4 separate regions of the Homo sapiens genome follow, and all the other regions are reported to be linked to region 2. Evidence: microRNA targets listed by miRTarBase, many of them from high-throughput screens and not tested one by one. Region 2 holds a microRNA gene; each other region holds the end of a gene's coding sequence. Distances are from middle to middle.

The links. Region 2 holds the annotated microRNA hsa-miR-4439 (GUGACUGAUACCUUGGAGGCAU, at 2,852-2,873, opposite strand). A microRNA usually pairs through its seed, bases 2 to 8, with sites in the 3' UTR of a target mRNA and lowers its output. Matches are read on the target gene's strand: a 7mer-m8 pairs with bases 2 to 8, a 7mer-A1 pairs with bases 2 to 7 and ends in A, and an 8mer does both.
Region 1: miRTarBase lists CHCHD3 as a target of hsa-miR-4439. Seed matches in the 3' UTR shown: 7mer-m8 at 3,580-3,586.
Region 3: the mRNA of FBXL4 is a reported target of hsa-miR-4439. Seed matches in the 3' UTR shown: 7mer-m8 at 3,588-3,594.
Region 4: the mRNA of HYCC2 is a reported target of hsa-miR-4439. Seed matches in the 3' UTR shown: 7mer-m8 at 2,584-2,590 and 7mer-m8 at 1,388-1,394.

What each region holds. Positions count from the first base shown.
Region 1 is chr7:132,781,852-132,786,078 of GRCh38, forward strand. It overlaps CHCHD3 (coiled-coil-helix-coiled-coil-helix domain containing 3), which reads right to left. Exons shown (of 8, transcript NM_017812.4): 8 at 3,019-3,809. The coding sequence ends at 3,786. Among named protein-coding and RNA genes, the nearest start is that of FLJ40288, 140 kb to the left of the region's middle.
Region 2 is chr2:225,007,665-225,011,664 of GRCh38, forward strand. It overlaps MIR4439 (microRNA 4439), which reads right to left and starts at 2,876; the gene lies at 2,797-2,876. All of the region lies in intron 1 of DOCK10 (dedicator of cytokinesis 10), which reads right to left.
Region 3 is chr6:98,870,787-98,875,013 of GRCh38, reverse strand. It overlaps FBXL4 (F-box and leucine rich repeat protein 4), which reads left to right. Exons shown (of 10, transcript NM_001278716.2): 10 at 573-4,227. The coding sequence ends at 736. Among named protein-coding and RNA genes, the nearest start is that of POU3F2, 38 kb to the right of the region's middle.
Region 4 is chr2:200,977,606-200,981,803 of GRCh38, forward strand. It overlaps HYCC2 (hyccin PI4KA lipid kinase complex subunit 2), which reads right to left. Exons shown (of 13, transcript NM_001321623.1): 13 at 1-4,198. The coding sequence ends at 3,665. All of the region lies in intron 1 of LOC105373835 (a long non-coding RNA gene), which reads left to right. Among named protein-coding and RNA genes, the nearest start is that of ORC2, 16 kb to the left of the region's middle.

The DNA of each region.
Region 1 (4,227 bases), not on the chromosome of region 2:
GCCTACGTGTCCTAAGGTGACTTCCTAGACTAGATGCAGCCTGCCCACGGAGTAAATCCCTCAGGGCACTGATGGAAAACAAAAACCTAATGGAGACCATAAGCTGTAGGAAAAGTACCATCAAGGGCACAGAGAAAGAAATACAAATATAGTTTTCATTTAGAAAATTTACCCAGTTTATAAGAACTGTAAGAATAAGAAATTACTAAATGAGAGGAAGTACTAAATATAGGACTAAAAGATTTAGGAGGCCGGGGAAGAAAAGAAGGGAAGTATCAAAAAACACAAATCATAATGGAAAGGACCCCGAACAGGCCACTGTACAGTGAGAGACCAGAGGGAGGTGACTTGTCCCCACTGACAAATGGAGCAGAGCTGGATCAAGAGCCCAGGACTCTGCACTCAGGAGGATGCACTGTGCACTCCGTTGTCACTGCTTCTCTGGAGGGAGGCTGGAGAGACTGAGAAAAGTGTAAACACACAGAGGAGGTTAGAGGAGGGAATGAAGATGGCAGAGAAGAGAGGAGGAAGCAGAGACTGGGAAAACTTGGGAGAGGAAGACGGGAGGAGAGCAGTGAGATAACAATGAGTATCAACGCATTCATTCACAACATTAGCCTTTCAAGAGGATTAATTCTAAACAGACTATTTTCCTAACTCACTTGGTTTGAATCACAGCAAGTTACTGCTGCCCTTTCAATTGTTCAACTGCTAATTCTTTAAAAAAATTATTTCACGAATACGTTGTAACATTATTAACCAGTCAGCATGTTGTACAACAGATCTCTTGAACTATTCCTCCTAATCTAACTGAGATTTTGTTGCTTTAATTCTTAAATCTCAAAAGGGTCATCTCCTACAGCTCACTGCAATGTGGGTTTCTGGCAAAAGCAATTATACCTGCAGGCTGGAAGACAGCAAGTGAAGAACCACACATTCTCCATTTCTCAGCCCGAGAAGTCGAGGACATGTGACTACCTGGTCAGTTCTAAGCTAAAAACTGTTGTAGGGAGTCTTGTGGGTTGACCAACTGGCCACAGGCATCTGGCTTTTAGCAGTCTACATTTGCTACTAATCATGATTAGTCAATACTTTTCTAAACTAGTGCATGTTGGCAAGTTTACTGTAATGTTATTGACTTCTCAAAGAGGACTTCGTGCTGATTCAACCCAGCTGTGTTCTATAAGTTCCTCAAACATTTGTTTAGTGTGATATCCTCTGATCAGCTTTCAAGACACTTTATTCTTCTTGGCTTCATGAGCTAAGCTACTGTGGCTGAAGGTGCATTCTACTTAAGTGAGAAACTGATTGGAATGTACCACTCCACAGCCTCATATAAATCACAACACTCTTCCCAAGCAGTGGTCTGGAAAGCTACTGTGACCTGGCAGAGCTGTGATGCCATCAGCAGGGAGCTCTCCAAGGACGGAGAGAAAGGCATCATTTCATCCTTTTACTTCCCCAAAGCGCTGGCTTTTGTCTTGCACCTACCATGCTTATCAGAATGATAAATTAATAAGCAATGCTGGGAGGAGCGGCCTGTCGAACCAACCCCCCTTCCCCTGGATTTCGCCCACTTTAGACGCCTGACTCTACAGCGCTGCATTTGCCTGCCAGAGGCAAGACTGGCAGCCTGGGATGTGCCAAGTGCTTGGCTCTCAATTGCAAAACAAAACAGTATAGGAGGGAATTTGTGAGTTAGCTGATTTGCAAACACTAGAGCAAGTCGCCATGTAAACATTTGTTTTTGTGTCTCTCAGGTTTTTCCATTTCTCTCAGGCAGCTACCTGGATGCCACCCTGACAGCATCAAAATGTGCTGCTCCTCAAGTTACCAGTGAATCCTTATTCACACTGAAATAAACTCAGCTTCTTTCAGACCATTAAAAAAGAAACCTGAAAGCCCCCCACAAAACAAAACAAAACAAAAAAACCCAAACAAAAAAAACTTCATGAAGCAGTCATCACAGAGGATATCAGTAATTATGGCAGGAGAGCCTCTAGTGTTGCTCAGAATCAACGTTAGGCCAGCAGGTGTGTCCCCAAGTGTCTATGAACATGTCACTCGGAGGGAGCCATCGCCTGGGGAACCTGAATGAATAAGCAGCTGCAGTTACACTCACATGCGTTGGCTGAGACTGTTCCATCACAAGTACATCCAACTTTAAATAAAAGGTACTTGGGCATGTGAATACGTTCTATGCCCCCAACGCCAAATGCCAGTTTACTGAATCATCACACAAGCCAGCATTTACTGGGTCTGACCAAACGTATGCGGTGAGTCAGCATTTGGACTCTTCACTGTAAGCCTAAAAATTAGTTCTTCCATTTGCCCCCTTTTTGCAGTTGAAGAAGTATTGGTTGACTTGGTTGAATTCCACAGCAGAGCCAGAATTTGTACACAGATTAAGAATACAGAACCTGTATTTTGCTAAATTCACTTGCTTCGTAATAAAATAAAAATCCTACATGACAAAAGACACTTAAAGGATATCACAGAGCACTGGTACTCCTATGTCTGAAAAGAACCTTCTCATTTAGCTTCAGTGTGACTACTTATTTCCAACTCACTCAACTCCAGGGTTGAAGCACCAATCATGGTTAAAAAAAAAAAAAAAAAAAAGGGAGAGTTATAATCAGGAAGTTTTGAAAAATTGGAAAGAGGAAAAAAAAACCTAATGGTTGAATTATTTTCTTTAAACGTTTTTTAGTATTGCAGGGTCAGAAGGTCCTAACCAAGGTTATCTAATCTAGTTCTTGCCCCAGGCAGGATGACTTAAGTCATCCCAAAGAAAGGAAAGTTCACACAATTTGTAAAGATCTTCCCGAATTCTACCTACCTGATAGGCAAGTTATAAGCATCACTTGCCTGTCGGAGGCTCCACGAAATGCTCTGGAGCCTTTGAGAGGAAAGGTACAGCACAAATGCAAATTATTAACAATATAAATCAGCTCAATTCCCGTAAGCATAGACATCTAACCCAGCCAAAGGAATGTGTGAGGAGCTACAATGCCAGTCTTTGTCAGAAAATATATTTATTATTGATAGTGAGTGAAGTAAAGATGTGAGTATTCACTATAGAGGTTTTATCAGCCAAGGTTGCCTTCATATTGATAAAAATACCTTATCTCACTTGTAATCATAAACATTATTCCAGTAGAAGAGGTACATTTTCTCTCCTTTTTGTCTTCTTGCCTGTATAATCACCATAATAAGTTATAATGAAATAGCTCTTACATAATCAAAGGAGAAAAGAAAGACAAAACCAACATGCCACAGCCTAGACAATTCCATCCAGCACTGCTGCCTCCAGATCTGTTTTCTGGCTCTCTCCACCCAGCACTGCTGCCCTCGGATCTATGTTTTCTGGCTCTCTCCTCGCCCCACTCCAATTAATTTAGCCCCCAACCCCATCCTACTTTGTTAGGGTGGAGGTTCACCAAATGATGGGGCTTGTTCAGAAGAGAAACATTTTATGGTCAGTGCAAGTTGAATAGAAAGTACCAAAAGGTGGAGAGGGCTGCCCTTCTCTTTTAATCATCATAAGAGGGTTTACTAATACTCAAGAGTGTCCTTTAATGACTGATCCCTGATCAAGGCTTTGGCCCTTCAAACTGCTGCTGTTCAAAACGTGAAATGATTCTGCTGAATCCATTCTTGATGTCTCTCTTTAGTGGTCTTCTCATTAGTGGTCTTCTCTTCAAATGGGTTGTTTTCTCACTAGGAAAAAAAATGTTCCATCTCTGGAATTAACGTTGATGGTGTTTTGCTCATTCTGAAAGTTTTTATCCTCCCTTCTCAAGCATGCTCTGCAAGAAAAACAGAAAGAGTAAGTTTTACCACCGGGAGAGGACAAAAAATAAATGGCACTAACTATTTAGTATGATTTGTGTTGCTTTTCAAATATCTAATTTTAAAAACACAGAAAACAAGGCATATGCTTCCTGTTCTCAAAATATTGCTCCTTTAATCAACACCATTGCTTTATCAATATGATCTTTAAATGACCCCTCTCACCACCACATGGGTTGAAAACCCCAACAAGGCCGGGCGCAGTAGCTCACGCCTGTAATCCTAGCACTTTGGGAGGCCAAAGTGGGCAGATCACTTGAGCCCAGAAGCTTGAAATCAGCCTGGGCAACACAATGAAACCCAATCTCTACCAAAAACAAAAACATTAGCTGGGCATGGTGGTGTGTGCCTGTAGTCTCAGTTACTCGAGACGCT
Region 2 (4,000 bases):
GGTTTTCATGGCAGTGATGAAACTTGAAATATTGTGTTTAATTCTTGGAGACAGATTAGGAAGGATACAGACAAGCAGGACCGATTGCAAGGAGAGCAATGAAGACATTAAAAAACATCCACAAAAAAGTCCGGAAGAATGATGGTTAGCTTTGGAAAGATAAGACTACAACAGGCTTGACAATTGTTTTTGAAAACTTAAAAATGGTCATGTAAAAAAGAATTACGCCTAATTGTGAGCATGATCAGGGATATGCATTCTGTTCTTTAAGAAATGCTGCTATCATCTAATTTTTTTTTTTCAATGGAGTGGGGGCAAATAAAAGTAAAGTGACTTTCCACGCATAGCAGATCCAATATGCTCAAATGTCACCCAAAGGAGTAGAGTTAAAGCCATGGCTGGAAGTTCATGAGCATCAATCCTGACTCAGTATATTGAAGAGTATTTTAGAAGTAAAAGCTGTACCAAACATGGGATTAGTCTTCTTGTCATTCATTCATAAACTTTTTATTTCTTTAGAGATGAGGTCTTGCTATGTTGCCCAGGGTGGACTCAAATTCCTGGGCTCAACTGATCCTCTCTCCTCAACCTCCAGAGTAGCTAGGACTACAGGCATGGGTCACTGTGCCCTGCCGAGAATTCACAAACATTTCTTGAGTGAAGACTCTTTGTTATGCATGGTGCTAGATTGTGAGTAGTGGACACTTTTTCTTCTGAGGCAGTCTTATATCAACACTTTATGCTGACTTTGTAAGAATATTCATGTTTTAAGAAGATACACAAAAACTATTTATTTAGCATTTATGGGTTTCAGTGATCAGCTGGCATTTTCTTTTCCTCAGAATTTAAAATATCTTCTGTAGGCTAACCAAAATATCACTGGGTAACTACCTACATTTCCTTTGAATTGGCAGTTGGGAGCACTGGTATCACTTCCTCTACCAAACTGTACAGAACTACTGTTATGTACCAAAGACCATAAATCACAGAGTTGCTGGGATTGTGAAAAAAATATTGAGACTGGCTGTCTCATCTTACAAATAAGGAAACCAAAGTCCAAGTGGGGCAAGTACTACCTGTAATGACATATCCAAAATGAGAGCACAGGTCCACTGAATCGTCCTTAGTACTCTATCCAATGCTCCACTATCTGCCCATAATATCCCACAGGTTACTATGTGTCGACACAAAGATAGACTAGGATTGACCTGAACAAACAGCCACAGTTATGTTAAACAAGCACCGTTTCCACCTCTCATAAGCTGTGTCTGATTTGCCATAAATCTCAAGCCAAATACGTCCAGTGAGTTGTACATTTATCATGTTAAGATGAAGGCTCTACTGGTGATAGATTTACTAAAAATATTCCAATCTTGTAATCTAAAGGACTTCAGCCTCAGGTGATATGGGGCCAGCAGCCAACATTGGAAAGACCACATCATGAAGTGAGGCTATACCGCCCTCTAGGGAGAGATGCTTGAAAAACCAGGGTCGACGCCTAAGTAAGGGGGTCACAGATTAGGTTTAAGTGGTTAAAATTTTATGTCTTCACAAAAAGTTTCCAACTACAGAAGAGTATTTAATTTTTCGCTAAGATGTAATATTCTACCTACCAAGAAAATCAATCACTGAATCAAAATATTAAAAAATAGGTGATATTAAGTTCTATAACAGTAAAACCTTAAGAAGGGAAGCTCTCTGAACATTAAAATACTCAGCCGAATTTCTAAATTAGTAAGACTTCAAAAAAGAAGACCATAATATCCACTATGTCCACTTATTAGCTTCAATCAAATAAGAGATTACTTTTGCAATTATTCTTCATGCAAAAAGATCTGTTAATCTCCCTGAGTGTCTCCCTACAAATCTCATTTCACCTGGGTGGCTCTTGGCAAGGTTAGCAGAATGTCGTCTGCAGAGAAGAAATGCAGAAATGCAGTTGAAGGGAACAATGACAAAGGCAAGCCCTAAGGCAAAAAAAAAAAAAGAAAGAAAAAAGAAAACAACAACAAAAACATGAAAACTGTATTCAGAGTTTGCTTACAAAGAGAAAACTCTCCAAAGCAATGAACTGAAACTGGCCACTGGAAAGACTTGTTTATAGATGTTCATTTTGACTCAATAGTACGCTGGAGTCCTACTCTTTATTTAATGATATGGTCAAGTCATGCAGGCTGATGTGGATGTGATCAGAGAGACTAACAAGAGTCTTTGTGTTGCCCTCCTGCATAGTTGAGGGATTAGATTTCTTTAAGAGTTGTACTGGTTAACCGTTAACTGAGTAACAAACTGCCCCAAACACTCAGGGGCATAGAAAAAAATGCAGCCATTTTTTCATGTGGCTAAGGAGCCTAAAGGTTGTCTGGGCAGTTCTTCTGGCATTGGCTGGGGCTTTACTCATGCATCTGCAGTCAGCTGCAGGTCCACTAGGCAGTTCTGAGGGTGTGTGGGGCCTTGGCTAGAATAACCAGGTAGATTCAGCTCTTTTCCTTAAATCTCATCTGCCAGCAACCAAGCCAGGCATTTTCCTATGGCAATGGCAGAGGATCAAGAGAGGAAGAAGAGGCAGTCAAGAACCTTTTAAGCCTTGCTGTGTTTAGTTTATTAGTGTCTCATGGGCCAAAGCAAATTTTAACAAGAAGCCTAAACTCAGTGTGGGAGGGCACCCCCAAAGGGCCTGGATAGAGAGAAGTATGAAGAACTGGGGAGGTGAATGCAATTAATTTGCCAGGCCAGGGGACAGAATCTTATATTGTCCCCTAGACAACCTAGAGGAAAATATAAAATTCTGTCTCCTGGCCTGGTAAACTGATACCTTAGAGGCATTTGCTTTGTGTGTATCTTAGATAAAATGCCTCCAAGGTATCAGTCACTGGTACCCTAGCTGACATCAGTTTCTTTTAGAAGAGCAGACTTTGAGAAAGGGAAGGGACACTGGGAAAGGGAACGTAAGATCAGTTCAGGCACTTCATCTTTTGATTCAAATAAGACAGTTCATACAATTTTGGGGGTTAACATTATTACAGAATGAATTAGAGTTGGGAATATAGATTAAAAGTTGAAAAAGAAATACAGAAAAGCAAATCAAAATTTTTTTTCAAAGACAGACATCAACTAATGCAGAATGAGAAACAAGATAAATCCTGCAAAACTTTTCCAAGGAAGCATTCAGCCTCTATCAAATGGGTCAGCTAAGAAGCTAAACGGCACAGCAAGGACATACTGATCCCATCATCTTCATGGTTCTAAATCAAACCAAACGTAGGTAAAAGGCCTGATATCTTCTCAGCTGATGAGTCAAATACTTCGAAGGGAAAATATAGTAAAATATTTCAAGGTTTGGAAGACAGCTTGGCTGTGACACATTCTGACTCACAACAAGTCATGAGTTTTCTGACAAAGCAAAAGTAGTGATGGAAAATATTGATATGATATCTATCATAGCATATGTATATAGTCAAAGTTCTTTCACAGCAAGCAAGTGTTGCCAAATGATCAGTTCAAAGAAGATTTCACGCCAATGAAGATGATTACAAAAAGGAAAAAGAGGCAATGTCGCAGTAGTTGCCAGAAAGGACTTACGGCTTTTCAGGTAGGTAGATAAGTCACAGGTACAAAGAAAAAATGAGATAGAAGCACATATTTGCCACACAAATAAACCTGCTAGAAGTATTCATGCTGGAAGTTTCAGCTTCCTAAAGTGACTCTTTCCATAGCCAGAGAGAAAAGAGGTTGCAAGATCAAGTTACTTTAAAGAAGAAATGAAATTCAAATTAAATTAACTCTTAGAGTGTTGAATATTGACATCAATGCCACCAGCCAATGTGAAGGTAAAGAGAGGCCTGCAGTTATGACTTCAGGACATACATGGCTTTCTTATAAAATGTTTATGTTGGCAGTTTTACTGCAAATAATACCTTCGAAACTGAAATGCATCTATTTAATCCTGATTTTTAAACAGTAAAGACTCTGAACTTTAGCAAAGAAAATCAACCAAGTC
Region 3 (4,227 bases), not on the chromosome of region 2:
ATCTTTATCCCTGATAATTCTAGCGTTTAGGAATAGTTCTACCCCAGGCAGATCTATTGAAAATCTTTTCCAGCTCTGGGATTTCTTGAATCCTTGCTGCATTCATCAGAAAGGAACCCTGTGTAATTTTGTTGCTTCTTACTTTTAGCCAGGGGTGCTAGCAGTGTCACAGTAGTTATCATTGTCCACACAATTGATACTTTGTGAAGTCATATCGCACTTGCACATTTTACATCAAATGCATGGTGAAAACCATTTTGAACTGGGGTGACAGAAATAGGAAAGTCTGGAGGAGCTGATTTGAAGGGGTAGGAGGTAGGAATGAAGATAGTGGGTAGGATATTGGCAAGATTCAGGTCCTAGATGCTAAATTGGCTGGAAAATTCAACTTTTACTTTTTTAACAGAACCATTTCAATATGAAGTCATGTTTGAAAAAATGATTTTAATTTGTAAAGGGTTATTTTAAGTTCATTACAAACAATAAATCATGGATGGATTCATTGTTAGCACATTATATAAATGTTATACTTAAGGTGTTTTGTTTTGTTTTGTTTTGTTTCCCTTAAATAGGAACAAGAATGGTAAGTCCGGCATCCTTAAGAAAACTCCTGGAATCTTGTAAAGATCTTTCTTTACTTGATGTGTCCTTCTGTTCGCAGATTGATAACAGAGCTGTGCTAGAACTGAATGCAAGCTTTCCAAAAGTGTTCATAAAAAAGAGCTTTACTCAGTGACTTAATATATGTTCTGTATTAAAATTAATGTGCTTTGTTGGGGTTTAATTTTGGGATTGGTTTTGGGTTTTGTTTTTAGTTGTTTTAATGGTAAGAATTAAGACATTTGTAGATTTTAAAGAAAAATATGAAATTGTCCATTAAATCAAGTAAAAATGTGCACAAATGTTTTCATAAAATACTGCAAGCACTTCTCTTCAAGAATATGAGTGGATATTATTTTTACCTTATGTTAATCAGTGATATGCTTTAGTCAATAATATGATTGATAAAAGAATAACATGGAATCATGCTAACTTATTTTCAAAGGAACACTGAGCAATAAAGTATCGTGGCATTTATGCAAAAAAAAAAGTTAATTTTTTACACCTTCATGTAAGGATGTCTTATTAAGCCTGTGACCTGGCAAGTGTTTTGTTTGGTATGTACAAAATGGTCAGAGCTAGTTGGAGAATGAGACATGCTTTTCCAGCTGTTTGGTTATTTCTCTGGATTAACTGTTCAACTGGAAAATTTTTAGTTTTTCTAGCCAGGTGTGGTGGCACACACTTGTAGTCCTAGCGACACAGGAGGTGGAGGCAGGAGGATTACTTGAGATGGGATTTTGAGACTCTAGTGTACTTATGATTGCACCTGTGAGCAGCCACTGCACTCCAACCTGGGCAATATAGCAAGTCCCTTTCTCTTAAAAAAAATTGTAGTGTTTCCACTTTTCTTCTGATATTTTTGTCTATTTCACTACTGGATAATGCCAATATAAAAATTTGGGTATAATCAAGAATAAGAGGTAAACTACTAAATAAAAAAAGCTTTCCAACTGTTAGAAGCAGATGCCTTAACATTTTGTGAAAGGTAAAGTTTTGAGGTTTCTGAATTATATAAAAAAACATAAATGTGGAGATATATATTATATATACACATTATATATACATATTATAGATAATATATATCCACATTTATGATTTTTAATATATACATGTATATATTATATATTATATAATTATATATTACATTTATATTATATGTAATGTACATGTATATATTATATACATATATATAATTATATATATTATATAGAGAGAGATATATATCTTGCTAGGGTGTGTGGATGCTGGAATATAACGATTTTGCACTTAACAGGACAATGAATTTTGTTATACTACAGTTAATATTAGTTTTGTGTTCAAAACAGCTGTGCCTTTTCATGCCACAAAATATTTTCTGTCTACTTTCTGAGTAGCAGAATTAATTCATTTTTTTAACAAAACGATGTATGTCAAGTGTTCAGTAGTCACATGAGGAGAATGCTTCCTTTGTGCCTGGCACTGTTTCTTGTGCTTTGCATTGACTAATTCAATTCTCACAACAACCCTGTAAGATAAATGCCATTACTTACCCCCATTTACAGATGAGGAAACTGAGGCAAAGAAAGATTGAAGAATTTATTTATGATCATACAGCTGCTAGTGGCAGAGCCAACATATAAACCCAGGCCATCTGGCTTCTGAAGCATTGCATTAAACCTGTGCTTTTAGGTGTTCAGGGTAGCTTCTGGCTCTAGGGCAGAGGTCAGGAAACTTTTTCTATAAAGGGCCAGATAGTAAATATTTTAGGCTTTGTGGGCTAAGAGGTAAAACTGAGATTGTTATGTAGATACTTAAATAACTAGAGAGAAATAAAATTTGCACGAAAATTTTATTGACAAAATTCAAAACAATAATTTAGAACAATTTTTTTTGTAATACGGGTTTACTAATGAAAAGAATTAAATATTTACAGGGAGGATCAAAGTTAATGTTTCGTGTCATTAAAGTTGATTGTAAGTACTCATTTGTTAATGCTGATCTGTAATAAGATTTTATGTATTTTACTTCTGAAAATTCCTTGCAGATAGGTATTGTCAAATACTTACATTAATCCATGAGAATATGATTTTTGTTGAGCATATTCATCACTTGAAAGGTTACTTCTTCTCTGGATATTTTCCTTTTAGCATGTTATTACATTGCAGCTTAATCACTTCCAATTGAAGACTAGGCAGAAGCTCCTCAATTGCACTGTTAAATTGATTTTGAAAAATGGAAATTTCCTTTACATTTGCAAACTCCAAAAAATACTGCAGGCACTATGGTGTGAGCTACAAATTTGTGTGAGAGTGGAGATCTCGCTTCTTTGTCTTACCTTTTGATAGCACAGGAAATGTGTAAAGCAGCTTGTTGTTACTTGTAATTCAAACAATGTTGTCATCAAAATGACTTATGTTTTGCTTGTAAACACGTTTTGCCTTGTAATTTTGGCTTGAATTCATTTCAAAATTTTATTAAGTCTTGAGCAAAAGCTAAATTCCAAAGCCATTCAGTGTTCCATAATAGTGATTGAGGACATGTCTTCTTTTTCAGAAAAATGTCAATATCAGCCCTGAACGCAAAAGCTCACAATAGAACTAACACTATTATGCCAATGTGGTTGGGCAAATCAGCATATTCATCTTCTGTATCTGACAAAAGATAACTGAACCATTGATGTTTAATCTATCAGAAACTATGAGAGCAAATGAAGTTCACCATTGCTACCAGTAGTTCAGTAATACAAAATTGAATCAAATATATCCCACAAAGTACCTGCTGATGAATAATACAGTAAATAACCATAGATTTTAAATACCTTCTTACCTTTTCACAGGCTTTATAAATTTGACAAACGTAATCATTTTGCTTCACACATTTTTAACACCACCAGTTGTAACACATCTTAGCAGATTCTACTTCAGGTTGCATGAAATTTGTGTTTTCTTCTTATAAAATATTCATGCTTGTAATTGTGCCACACAGATAATTCATAGAGACTAATTTCAGTCACTTCAACGTTGGCATTGACTTATCAAATAAGCAATAACTAGGCAGTGTCAGTAACATCTGTTGACTCATCAAGAGCCAAGGAAAACCACTCAGGGTCATTTGCCTTGTTTTTTATTGACTGTTGATGTTGTTCCCAGTGTTCTCAATTCTTTAAGCAACCATTCTTGCCAAAAGGCTAATTTAATAGTCTTAAGTTTACTTTGGACACAGTCCTTCAGCCGATAGAATCAAACACAATTTAGTTATCGTTAGTAAAATGTTTTCCTTGCTTGGTTAACATCTGAGTCACTTTGGCTGCAACTTTATTTTCATTTTTGAGTTTGTTTTTTTTTTTTTTTGAGACTGAGTCTCATTCTTTTGCCCAGGCTGGAGTGCAGTGGCACAATCTCAGTTCACTGCAACCTCCACCCTGCAGGTTCAAGCGAGTCTCCTGCCTCAGCCTCCCAAGTAGCTGAGATTACAGGCACATGCCACCACACCTAACTAATTTTTATGTTTTTAGTAGAAATGGGGTTTTACCATGTTGTCCAGGCTGGTCTTGAACTCCTGACCTCAAGTGATCCACCCACTTCAGCCTCCCAAAATGCTTGGATTACAGGCATGAACCACTGCATCTGACCTCCCTATAGTATT
Region 4 (4,198 bases), 24 Mb from region 2:
TTCTGGGAGGCCAGGTGGGTGGATCTCTTAAGCCCAGGAGTTCGAGACCAGCCTGGGCAACATGGCAAAACCTCGTCTCTACTAAAAATACAAAAATTAGCCAGGTGTGGTGGTGCATGCCTGGAGTTCCAGCTACTCCAGAGGCTGAGGTGGGAAGATCACCTGAGCCCAGGGAGGTTGAGGCTGCAGTGAGCCGTGATAGTGCCACTGCACTCTAGCCTAGAGGACAGAGTGAGACCCTATTTCAAAAAATTCAAATCTTCTGAGTTAACTATTCACTTTGCATTTTAGTTTGCTTTCTAGTAATTAATGTCAGAGCGAGCTCCCAAAACCTTCAGCTGTTTCTTTGTATTCTTTTATCCAACTTGGCATACATGGCACCAACCTAATTGTTTTATTACAGAAAACAAGTATTTTCTCCCTAAATATCTTTTTCATAGATGATTAGACTTTTATGGAGATTAGAAAATATATAACAAAAGCTTGTTAAAAAAGTATGAATATTGCTGGCATATATCTGTAACAGCTGTTGTATACATGAAACAAAACTATTTTAAATTAAATGCCAAAAATAATGCATGTTAAAATGCATATTTAAAAACTTAGAAAATTTGACTCTCAGTTTGTTAAACTAACACCTTCCATTTTAACTAATAATAATTCTTGCACAAGAAATCTGTTGTAAGACCCTGAATGCAAGGCTTAGACTAAATGAAATGTTTCTTCACTGAGGTCAATTCACATCACCTAAAAGAATAGAAAACAAATGTTACAGGGTCATAAAATGTTAATGTGGGTATGTATACATACAAACATATATGTATATACATACAGATAAATAAAATCCTCTAAGATGAACTTTTTTTTTTTTTTTTTTTTTTTTTTTCAGAGATGGAGTCTTGCACTGTTGCCTAGGCTGGAGTACAGTAGTGCATTCTTGGCTCACTGCAACCTCCACCTCCCAGGTTCAAGAGATTCTCCTGCCTCAGCCTCCCGAGTAGCTGGGATTACAGGCGCCTGCCACCACGCCCAGCTAATTTTTTGTATTTTTAGTAGAGACAGGGTTTCACCATGTTGGCCAGGCTGGTCTCGAACTCCTGACCTCATGATTCACCCACCTCAGCCTCCCAGAGTGTTGGGATTACAGGCGTGAGCCACCGTGCCCGGCCAAGATGAACATTTTTTAAAACCAATTTTTCAGGTATAACATAAGATTTCTAGCCAAAGGAAAATTTTGTTGTATTAATTCTAACATTTGCTGTGATTTGGTATTATGTGGTATTTCTTTTGTGCTCTAACCAAAATCATGCTAGATTTAGATGCCAATAAATGCACAATTTGAATTGAAAACAGTCTTTTTACCTCCCAAATAATTTATGCCATAAAGTGACTGACCTCCAGCCATAGCCAAGATCTCACTTTCTTTTTTATTTTTTATTTATTTTTAATTTTTTTTTAGATCTCACTTTCTAGGTAAGTATAATGTTCCTTTCCTTACATACCTGAAACTGCCTGTTTTAGTATGTTATGGGCCTTTATAGCTCATTTATTTTGGCTATTTTTAAACTCCTTTCATTTATTTGACATCCCTTAAATTAAAAGAAAGGGTATTTAAAATATTTAAAATACAACTTTGTGATATATACATATACACACCATACACACACACACACACACACACACACACACACAGACACACACAAAACAATAAATTGTCTACTTATCAACTTTTAGCTTTACCCTGGACTTTGGCAATGTTGTAGATACTAGTTCAGGTTCTAGTTTTCCATTTTCACATGAGCTGGAAAAATGTTACAGACCACCATATTTAAACAAGCATCTCATATATAAAGAGTCTAACAGAAAGTCTCTTAGGGAAAAAAGAAAGTCCTTACAATAAAAACGGGAGGATTGCTAGGTGTGAAAAAAAAAAAGGCGTTTTTTCTGGTTATTTATCAAAATCTATTGTAATTTTAATGGTAGAGATAAAATTTTAACTTTTGCTAATTAGGAGAATACTTGCTTTCTATAAATTCAGTATATTTTTCTTAAACAATAATCAAGTAAAAACATCTAAATGTACAAAGCACTGATAGCTCTGATGTATTCTGTGGAAGGATAACTTATAACAGTTTAAGTCACAATACACTTTTTTAAAACCCAATATATTCCCTTCTTTTTCAAACATCAGAGCCTGAGACCCAGAAAAGTTATGATAAAATCTTATCCAACCAGATCAGAACTAAGGAAATTTTTTTTACCAATAATGTTTTTGTAACCTCTTAGCAGTTACCAAATGCTACTTACATACATTCAACATCTAGCTTACTGGCATGATATCAAAGTTTTATAAAAATGAGGAACTGCAGATATATGATTAGAAGGTACACAAATTGCATTACATTAAACACAAAGGCAGTGTGGTCCTTGTAGGAGAAATCAAGGTCAGTACCCCCTGGTAGAAATGTTCTATAAAAATGTGTCACATTGAAGTATCAGTGTTTCAGCCAATTGTCTGTCCCTGATATATTTCCTTGGAGTATGTAATGTATCAGGACTTTAGGTTTCTTAATCCAAAATGTCTGACTGAATTTAGGTACATCTAGAAAGCAGCTGAAAGGGTTTCTCTTATAGTCTGACATAACAGAAAGTAGATTGAGAAATCCCTCTCTTTACCTGAAGATGTACTGTTACACTTCAGCCATCAGCTCACAAAGGAAAAGAAGAAAAAAAAATCAAATCTCCTCTCACACACACAATCTCCACAAAAGCTAAACAAAAACTACCCCCCGCCCCCACAAAACCCCAGCACCAAAGTGTCAATCATTCCTGGGAAATAGAACATGCCCCTCAGATTCTGATTTGTTAGTTGGCCAAACTTGAAGGACAGAAATGACCTTATATGTCCTTGTGGGGAAGAGGGAAGACACGTTAATAATGACTATACAGCCATTGAGAAAGTGCATTATCAATTACACAATCAAGAGTCCTGCCCTCCAATGGAGGTGGTCACAACTTGATTTAAATGCCTCCGTAATTGAACATTTATGTCTTCGGGATAAAGGAGATGGGGGGGTGGAGAAAGAGCTACCCTCATTTTAATGAAAAAGTGCAGCAGTCTACCACCTTTCCCCATGCTTCTCCAGAAAATGATTGCACAGACTCAGAGAAGTCCAAAGTCATAGCAGAATCTCTGAGGCACTCCTGGTTAAGAGAAAAAAATATGATCCAGTAATCTTCATAGTTCTATAGATTATGAGAACAAACCCGTTTTGTTTTTAAACAAAAGCCAAAGAATCGTTTCATAGGGATCATATACACCATTTCCTCTAATGTACCCTCAGTCTCACAGTGTTGAAATGGGACCGATCAGCCTACGATGGATTGCACATCACCCAAGGAGAAAGGAAGGCATGGAAAAGGCAACCATTTTATACTGCTTCACAAACACATTTACAAGGGATAGGTGAAGAGAAGATGTAGGAAAGAGGGATAAAGAAAACCTTATTGCTGTTTTGATACAAAATACAGTATGAAGATACCTAAACTAAATGAAATCTGATAACAGTGACCAATATTTTCACAATGTGGGATGAAGTGTCTTCTTGCACAATGAAATGTTCAGTTTAAAAGGTAAGCAGAAAGATGAGGGAGGATGTCAAAACTACACCTGGGATATTAGCTGCATATTGAAACTTGGGGATCGAGACTGCTTGGTCAAGGGGGCTCCTGGGCTGAGGAGCTCTTTACCTTCGCCAGCTTGACCTAGCCGGTCTTCCTGCAGACTGACAGTTGAGTATCGATTAGCATTGTTGGCTGCTAAATTAGTACCTCCCTCAGTGCCAACCCCAATGCTGGTACTTGCTTGACTGCCATTTACATAGTCAAATGATTTACTTGAGGAAGCACTGGCTGTCCGGATTAGACTTAAGCTATTGATTTTTGGCACCACCTGGCCAGCAGGCAGGCTCAGGTGTTTCTTCATTGGTGTCAGCTCAACTGAATCTACACTAAGATCAGTTGGTTGCTGTACATACTGCTTGCGAACTACTGAATCTCGAGGGCTCTCACTGGATTTGATGGCAGAGGCTGTTTCTTTATCCTTGGCTGAACGCCCAGTTGCTACTTTCCTTAAGCTTCCCCTCTGAGAAGAGGAGGATGGTTTGGTCCCAATTGGCTGACTGCTGAGGGAAGCCCC